2 linked regions of the Homo sapiens genome follow. The protein of the gene in region 2 purifies or fractionates together with the protein of the main gene of each other region. This does not show direct contact. Each region holds a gene or a part of one and is shown on either strand. Other genes may lie near its edges.

Region 1 (4,138 bases), on a different chromosome or scaffold from region 2:
TATACTAAAAATACAAAAATTAGCCGGGCATGGTGGCGGGCACCTGTAATCCCAGCTACTCAAGAGGCTGAGGCAGGAGAATCGCTTGAGCCCGGGAGGCAGAGGTTGCAGTGAGCCATGATCATGCCACTGCACTCCAGCCTGGGCGACAGAGTGAGACTCCATCTCAAAAAAAAAAAAATTATTTTAAAATCAAAAGAAAAGAAGGGAAATATAGCTTTGGAAGACCAAGGCAGAAGGATCGCTTAAGGCTAGGAGTTCAAGACCAGCCTGGGCAAGGCAAGACAGCAAGATCCCCATCTCTATAAAAGAAGAAGAAAGGAGGAGGAGGAGATAATTCAGCCTAAGTGGTGTTTATCTTTATTTTATACCAACATATCACAAAATATAATTTCATATATATTTATGAATGAAATGATCATGCTTAGGATCATGTTTAAGTATCTCCTATCCTGCCCTTTCAAGAAAACTATTTAAAGATGTTTCCAAACTCTTCCATGTCTCTTCTCAGTGGTTTGTCACAATGCTTCTACAGTGCTACACAAAAGAAAGAGAAATGGTCCAGAGAAGTGTAGTGACTTATCCAAGGTGATACCACCAGAATGACTAAACGGGGCAGCTAAGAAGAGCCCCGTCCTTGATGCTGCTGAAAACCCCGCGTTTTTGAGCTCTTTCCTCCCAAACATAACATCAGCTTGCGGGTTTTTGCGTCCTCCCAGGACCACCTGTGTTGCTGTTTACTGAATATTTTTCTCCACACTGCCTTTTTTTTTTTTTTTTTTGACAGAGTCTCTGTCACTCAGGCTGCATGCAGTGGCGAGATCATGGCTCACTGCAGCCTCGACCTCCCGGCCTCAAGCGATCCTCCCACCTCAGCCTCCCGAGTAGCTGAGAATACAGGCATGAGCCACCGCACCCGGCCTACACCGACGTTTATAAACTTGGCGTCATTACGTTGTCATGAGCAGTGCAGAGGTAATCACAAAAACGTTTACCGTGGAAACAAAGCAAAGCTTCTTCAGTTCTGCTGAGGTTCCCCTGACAGCCAGAGCCTCGAGTCGGCCTGCGTTGGTTTAGAAGGAACGTTCGGATTTGTTCCCAGGGTGTTACAGGCATCCTAGCGCCACACAGAGCGTACCCTCGGAGGGACAGACAGGTAATTAGAGAGGGAACAACTCACATTCTCCCGGGCTCAGCCGCCACGCCCCGCCCCGCCACGCCCCCTGCTGCACCACGCCCCCTCGCAGCCCCGCACTGCGCCTGCGCAGTAGCTCTTACGCCAGTTCGAGCCCCACCCCCTTTCAGAGCGAACATTGGCCTTGGGGGCGGGGCTTGGGCACAAGATGGCCGCTGCGCGCCCAGAGGCCCAGAGTCGGAGCTCACCGACTCCGGAGTCGCGATCCCAGGAGCCACTGGACCTGGTGCGGGCAAGGAAGGGGCCTGGGCGTGGGGCTCGAGGTGGGAGGAGGTCGTAGTGTGGGGGGCGGGTCCGGGGCGTGGCCTATGAGGGGGTGGGCGAGGGAGGTATTTAGTGCTATGGCCCTGGGGGTGGGGCTTCTTGTGGTTTCGCGAGGGGCGGGGCAGGGGAGGAGACTATGTCATGGTGGGCGGGGTGGGGGAGGGACCTATGGGTGGTGGGCGGGGCCTGGATGGGGGCGGAGTCTGAGGACGGTGTTGTCTTGTGGGACGGGTTTGGGTCCAGGGAAGGGGGCTTACCAGGGATAATTTGCATAATTTGGGTGGAGCCTTGTAAGGGGCGGGGCCTCATAAATTCTAGGGCTAATTCTAGGGTAGAAGGTTGGGAAGGTGACCCTGAAAAACGTGGGGGATTATGATTGGAGCACCTATGTCGGGGTAGGGGATAATTCTTCAAGGGTCTTAGTGATGCTTCTCGAATGCCCAAGGGAGAATTTGGGGGTAGAAGTGGGTGGTCTAGGTGACTTTGGAACTTCCTCCACGTTACCCCACTCAGAATTAGACTAATTGAGGACATTCATTCATTCAACAAACATTTACTGAGCTCCTACTTCGGCTCTGTAAATAGAGAAGTGACCAAGACAGACAAGGGTTGTGTTCTTTTGGAGCCTGCAGTCTCTTGAGAGGAGAGAGACAATAAAGGAGAGTTACTGTGATATGTTCTATAAAGGAAATAAAAATTGAGCCAATTTCTATAAATTGAGCCAAGAGTAGGGGTGGGGCAGCTAAATTTAGACGAGAGAAGTCAGCTGGGTGCCGGCTTATGTTTAAGCTGGGGTCAGAGAGATAAGTGGAGCTACATCGCCACAGATATTATAGTGACGATTTGGGATAAGTCATTTGGAGCCACTGGAGGGTTTTGAGTGCGAAAAATGACTTGATCTGATTTACATTTTCAAAAGACCTTCAGGCTATTCCTGGGAGGTGGGTTACAAGCCAGCAGAAATAGGAACAGAGATGCCCTTGGGTTTTTCAATTTTGGAGGCGCCAAGTGATGGGGCTTTAACTAGGGTGGAGGACAAAAGGTGGGATCCATGATATATTTTGGACAGGAGAGGAAATGTTGATGAGGATACAACAGAATCCTGGAGGATGGGCCGGGCGCGGCGGCTCACGCCTGCAATCCCAGCACTTTAGGAGGCAGAGCCAGAAGGATCTCTTGAGCCCAGTAGTTGGAGACCAGCCTGGGCAACATAGTGGGACTCCCTCTACATTAAAAATAATAATAATAATTTTTGTTTGTTTTGCTGTCTAAGATGGAGTCTTGTTCTGTCGCCTGAGCTGGAGGGCAGTGGCATGATCACATCTCACTGCAACCTCCACCTCCTGGGTTCAAGCGATTCTCGTGTCTTAGTCTCCCGAGTAGCTGGGATTACAGGCAGCAGCCACAACACCTGGCTAATTTTTGCATTTTTAGTAGAAACGGTATTTGCCATGTTGGCCAGGCTGGTTTCGAACTCCTGACCTCAGGTGATCTGCCTACCTCAGCCTCCCAATGTGCTGGTATTACAGGCCTGAGCCACCGTGCCCAGCCAGAAATAATTTTTTTTTAACTAGCTGGATGTGGTGGTGCATGCCTGTAATCCCAGCTACTCAGGGAGATGAAGTGGGAGGATCGCTTGAGCCCAGGAGGTCAAGGTTGCAATGAGCCACGATCGCGCCAGGGCAACAGAGTGAGGCCCTGTCTGAAAATAACAGAGGAGCCCAAGCTTTAATAATTGGGGCGTGCTGGGGCGGTCCTGAGGCAGGTTCCACAGGCTCCTCTTTCTTCTCCTCTTGCCCAGGTCCTGGTGCCTGATGACTGCCGGCCTGGCACACCCCCGAGTGACCTCATCGAGATCCAGGTGGTGAAGGTGACGGACACCACGCTGGTCCCTGAGCCCCCGGAGCCAGGTTCTTTCCACTGTGCCTTGTGCCCTGCTGCCTTCCGGCTGGTTTCCGAGCTGCTGTTCCACGAACATGGCCACTTGGCTGGGGCCGAGGGAGGCGGGCAGGGTGGGGACCCGAGCCGGTGCCACGTGTGCGGCCACAGCTGCCCGGGCCCCGCCAGCCTGCGCGCGCACTACAGCTTGCACACGGGGGAGCGGCCCTACCGCTGCGCGCTCTGCCCCCGCGCCTTCAAGGCCTTGGCGCCCCTGCTCCGGCACCAGCACCGGCACGGGGTGGAGCCGGGCACCTCTCGGAGGCCTCCGGACACAGCGGCCGTTGCAGAACAGAGGCCCGGGGTGGCCCCGGAGAGGGCGGAGGTGGTGATGGCGGCGGCGGCGGCGGGCGCAGCGGTGGGGAAGCCTTTTGCCTGCAGGTTCTGCGCCAAGCCCTTCCGCCGCTCCTCAGACATGCGAGACCACGAGCGCGTGCACACTGGCGAGCGGCCATACCATTGCGGCATCTGCGGCAAGGGCTTCACCCAGTCCTCGGTGCTTAGCGGCCACGCCCGCATCCACACTGGCGAGCGCCCGTTCCGCTGCACGCTCTGCGACCGCACCTTCAACAACTCCTCCAACTTCCGCAAGCACCAGCGCACCCACTTCCACGGGCCGGGGCCGGGGCTGGGAGACTCTGGAGGCCAGCTGGGCTCGTCGGCGGCTGAGGGGTCGGGGAGCGGGTGTGGGGTAGGGGACCCTGCGGAGGAGGGGCGGGGGGAGACCGCGAAGGTGAAGGT
Region 2 (4,117 bases):
TAATTTATTAATAGCATGTCTCACAGTTCATTCTCAGAAATGCTTGGATATGGCCGATAAATTGAAACGTCATCCTAGTTAAAAGTAACGTTTTTAACTGGCTGGAGAAAGGTGACTTGGGGTTCTAGGAAGGGACAGAGGAACAAACATTCTGTTGGCTCAGCACGCCCAGCCTGTGTTGGGCTGGGCACCTTAGAGGACCTGTTTCAGGACTGCGTGACTGGCGTTTTGCTGGGAGTAGCCCAGGTGTTTTAACCACTTCCTGAAGAACAAGGTTCGGTAAAAAGAGGCTGGGGCGTAGGCGTGGGTTCCTGTCCCTGCCATATGCTGTCTTCCTGATCTTCGGAAGTCACTTCAAGCACCTGATCATCAGTTTCCTTATCTGTAAAACTGGAGTAGTAATGTTTCCCTCCAAACGCCGTCGTATTTAATTCATTTAACAGCAGCCACTATTATTCCATTATACAGACGAATAAATAGACGTTATGAGAGGGCAAAGTGCGCTGATCAGGGCTCATAATAATTCTAACAGCTACTGTTTAGGAACCAAGTACTCAAGCAGCCTGTGCACAATCTCTAATTTCTAGAAGAGAAGACGGATACTTGGAAAGAGAACTTGAACAATGTCATGGAACTCATAAATGGCTTGAGAAAGGCTGATCCTAGGAAATCTGCTTCAGAACCCGCGCTCTCACTGCATAAGGCGTATTTCAAGGGAGGAACGGGCAGGCATCTAGCACCACTCTTCGGACTCCCCATCCAGTGCTCTTTTCCTCTTTTCGTTACACTGCACTGCTGGTCGGAAACCCATCGTGGAAGTGGATCAAACACAACAAAGGGCAGGGGGCGTTGGAAAACCGGGCGAAGTCGCGCAGACCGAGACGACCCACCGGCCCCAGCAAATCACCAGGGGCCGAAATCCAGTGTCCTCCTCCCTTCAGCCCAGAAGCCAGGTCACCTTTTAGACTTGCTCTCTTGGCGGGGAGGAAGCGTGGAGCCCCCTGGTCCGGCTAAGAGCTTACGTAAGGCCCGCGGGCGGCTGCGCCCCGGTCTCCCATGGGTGTGCGCAGAGCCCCCGGGCCGGAGCAGGCCTTCCCCTGTCCGCTCCCCCAGTCTCTCGGCCCAGGACCACGGGGGAGTTCAGGACCACCGGCCCCACGCCGGCAGCGTCCGCGTTGGGCGGCGGCGTCCCCCGCAGCCACCCAGCTTCCCGGGGGAGGAGCAGCGCATCGCGCAAGCATCCGGGAGCGGCGGAGGGGGCGGGAGGAAGGGCGAGAGGAGGAAGCGGGATTTAAACGAAAGGCGGTGACGCCACACAAAAGATTTCTATAGGCTCCAGGGAGGTTACGGCCGAGGCGGCGGCGGCGGCGAGCCCGGGGGCGAGGCGCGGACGGGAACAGGAAAAGCCTCCGGCAGCCCCTGCGGGCGGCGGCGCAGCCACGGCCGCGCTCCGAGGTGAAGCCGCGCGCGGAGAGGAAGCGGGTGTTTTCCCCTCTGCCTTTCGGCCCCCGCCCTTCCTTTCAGTTTCTGCCCGCTCGCTCGGAAGTTGGCGGTTGACAAAAATGGCAGGAGCCGGGGCCCGGGCCGGTTGCCGCAGCGCCGCGGGGACCTTCTGAGTTGGCCCGGTGGCAGGGAGACTCGTGCAGGGGCGTCCGATGCGCGGGGCCCGGGGCCTCGGGAGAGCTCAGCTGCTGCGGGCCCCAGACGAGGCGACAGGGATGGACTTGCGTAGACAGCCAGCGCCGGGCCGCCGGGCGCGCGGTCTGGGAGGGCGTGCCGCCGCGGCGCCGGGCCGCGCTCTGTGAACCGGCGAGGCGGGAAGGGGCCGCCGTGGTGCTCGGCACGCCCGGGCGTGTGGCGGGCGGGCGAGAGCTTGAGCGCGATCCGGGCGGCCGCTGTGCGCAATCAGTGCAGGCTCCCGCCCGACTCTGACTCGGCGCGGCCGCGACAGTGCCGGCCACACCCTCTGCCCCGCTGCCGCCGGCGCCGCTTCCCAAGAGCTGGAGGCAGGAGATGCGCCCGGGGCGGCCGCGCGTCCCAGAGAGCCAGCCCCGGCCGCCGTCGCGGGGAAGTGCCGCCTGGTGGGGTCACGGCGCCTGAAGCCCACGTGCGCCGCCGAGCCCGAGGTGGCCTCGAGCGCGGCGGCTGACAGCACAGCCCGCCTGAGCTGCCTCCCGCGCTCCTCCCCGAGGAAAGGATTTTGATTTCAAAGAAAGGAAGGAAGGAAGGACAACTCCCAGCTTCCCCGTCCCGCCCTCCCCGCTCCGAGGGCCGCGCCAGGCCATGCCCAAGAAGGCGGCGGCGGCGGCGAACCAGCAGAAGGGACTTTCCTGGCAGCCCGGCGACGAGGAGCGCGGACAGTGAGTTTGCTCTGCCCCGGTTCATGGTTCCTGCAAGCCCTCTAGGAGGCCGAAAGCTGCAGCCCCTCCCCTTGCCCCGAAGAGCCTTCCGCGTTCTCTCGCCCTCGGGCCCACCCCGCGCCGCCCGGGCTCCCGCCGCCGCAGCCCAGTGCCCTCTGCCCGCGGCGGTGGATGGCATGATGGTGCGGGGAAGGCACCGCGGCCTTGGCCAGCTGAGTCGCGACGGCCGCCGGGGCGGCGGCAGTGGCCGCGGCAGCGGCGGTGGTAGCGGGCTCCCCAGCGGCATGCCAGTGCCCCCCGGGCGCGATGGCTAGCGGCAGCGCCGGGAAGCCCACTGGCGAGGCGGCTTCTCCGGCTCCTGCGAGCGCCATCGGCGGGGCCAGCTCGCAGCCGCGGAAGAGGCTGGTATCCGTCTGCGACCACTGCAAGGGCAAGATGCAGCTGGTGGCTGACCTGCTGCTGCTGTCGAGCGAGGCGCGGCCCGTGCTCTTCGAGGGCCCCGCCTCCTCTGGTGCCGGCGCCGAGTCCTTCGAGCAGTGCCGGGACACCATCATCGCGCGCACCAAGGGGCTCTCCATCCTCACCCACGACGTGCAGAGCCAGCTCAACATGGGCCGCTTCGGGGAGGCGGGGGACAGCCTGGTGGAGCTGGGCGACCTGGTGGTGTCGCTGACCGAGTGCTCGGCCCACGCGGCCTATCTGGCCGCTGTGGCCACGCCGGGCGCCCAGCCCGCGCAGCCGGGCCTGGTGGACCGCTACCGCGTGACGCGATGCCGCCACGAGGTGGAGCAGGGTTGCGCCGTGCTGCGCGCCACGCCGCTGGCCGACATGACGCCGCAGCTGCTGCTGGAGGTGTCGCAGGGCCTGTCGCGCAACCTCAAGTTCCTGACGGACGCGTGCGCCCTGGCCAGTGACAAGTCACGGGACCGCTTTTCGCGGGAGCAGTTCAAGCTGGGCGTCAAGTGCATGAGCACCAGCGCGTCGGCGCTGCTGGCCTGCGTGCGCGAGGTGAAGGTGGCGCCCAGTGAGCTGGCGCGCAGCCGCTGTGCGCTCTTCAGCGGGCCCCTGGTGCAGGCAGTGAGCGCCCTGGTAGGCTTCGCCACCGAGCCGCAGTTCCTGGGTCGCGCGGCAGCTGTGAGCGCCGAGGGCAAGGCGGTGCAGACCGCCATCCTGGGCGGCGCCATGAGCGTGGTGTCGGCCTGCGTGCTCCTGACCCAGTGCCTCAGGGATCTGGCGCAGCACCCCGACGGGGGCGCCAAGATGTCGGACCACAGGGAGAGGCTGAGGAACTCGGCCTGCGCCGTGTCTGAAGGCTGCACCCTGCTATCTCAGGCTTTAAGGGAGAGGTCTTCGCCCAGGACTTTACCGCCAGTGAATTCCAATTCTGTGAATTAGCACCCCACCCCCATACCCCTTCTTCCACCCCCAGACTAAAGGAAGATACTTACTCTCTGCCCCTCTCCATTTATACCAAAGAAATCATAGGTGAAACCCCCTACCCTCCCCAACGTTAAATGCTCGAGAGGAATCTTCCACAAGGCAGGGCCATGCACGCAACCTGCACACGCACTTGGAGGGCCCAGGTGTCTCTCCACCAGCCCCCATGCAGTAGGGACTGGAAGATATGTCATCTGCTGGTTGTGTTATCACTCCCACCCCCTACCCCAGCCCGTCTTCCGGAATTTCTCAACTAAATTTCATTATTGGGCAGGAAGGAGGTCATGGGTTCATTTCATTTTTGTTTTTTGTGTTTTTAA

Evidence for each region.
Region 1: the proteins of TLNRD1 (region 2) and ZNF784 purify together in Homo sapiens (co-immunoprecipitation; one large-scale study listed by IntAct). This does not show direct contact.

The regions. Positions count from the first base shown.
Region 1 is NC_000019.10:55,621,767-55,625,904, reverse strand, and holds the start of ZNF784 (zinc finger protein 784), read left to right. Parts: upstream 1-1,338; 5' UTR 1,339-1,343; coding exon 1,344-1,421; intron 1,422-3,260; coding exon 3,261-4,138. UniProt on the Homo sapiens protein: May be involved in transcriptional regulation.
Region 2 is NC_000015.10:80,999,606-81,003,722, forward strand, and holds the start of TLNRD1 (talin rod domain-containing protein 1), read left to right. Parts: upstream 1-1,317; 5' UTR 1,318-2,536; coding exon of another isoform or gene 2,537-2,666; coding exon 2,667-3,755; 3' UTR 3,756-4,117. Other genes in the region: umcharacterized LOC128071545, read left to right, coding at 2,537-2,674. UniProt on the Homo sapiens protein: Actin-binding protein which may have an oncogenic function and regulates cell proliferation, migration and invasion in cancer cells.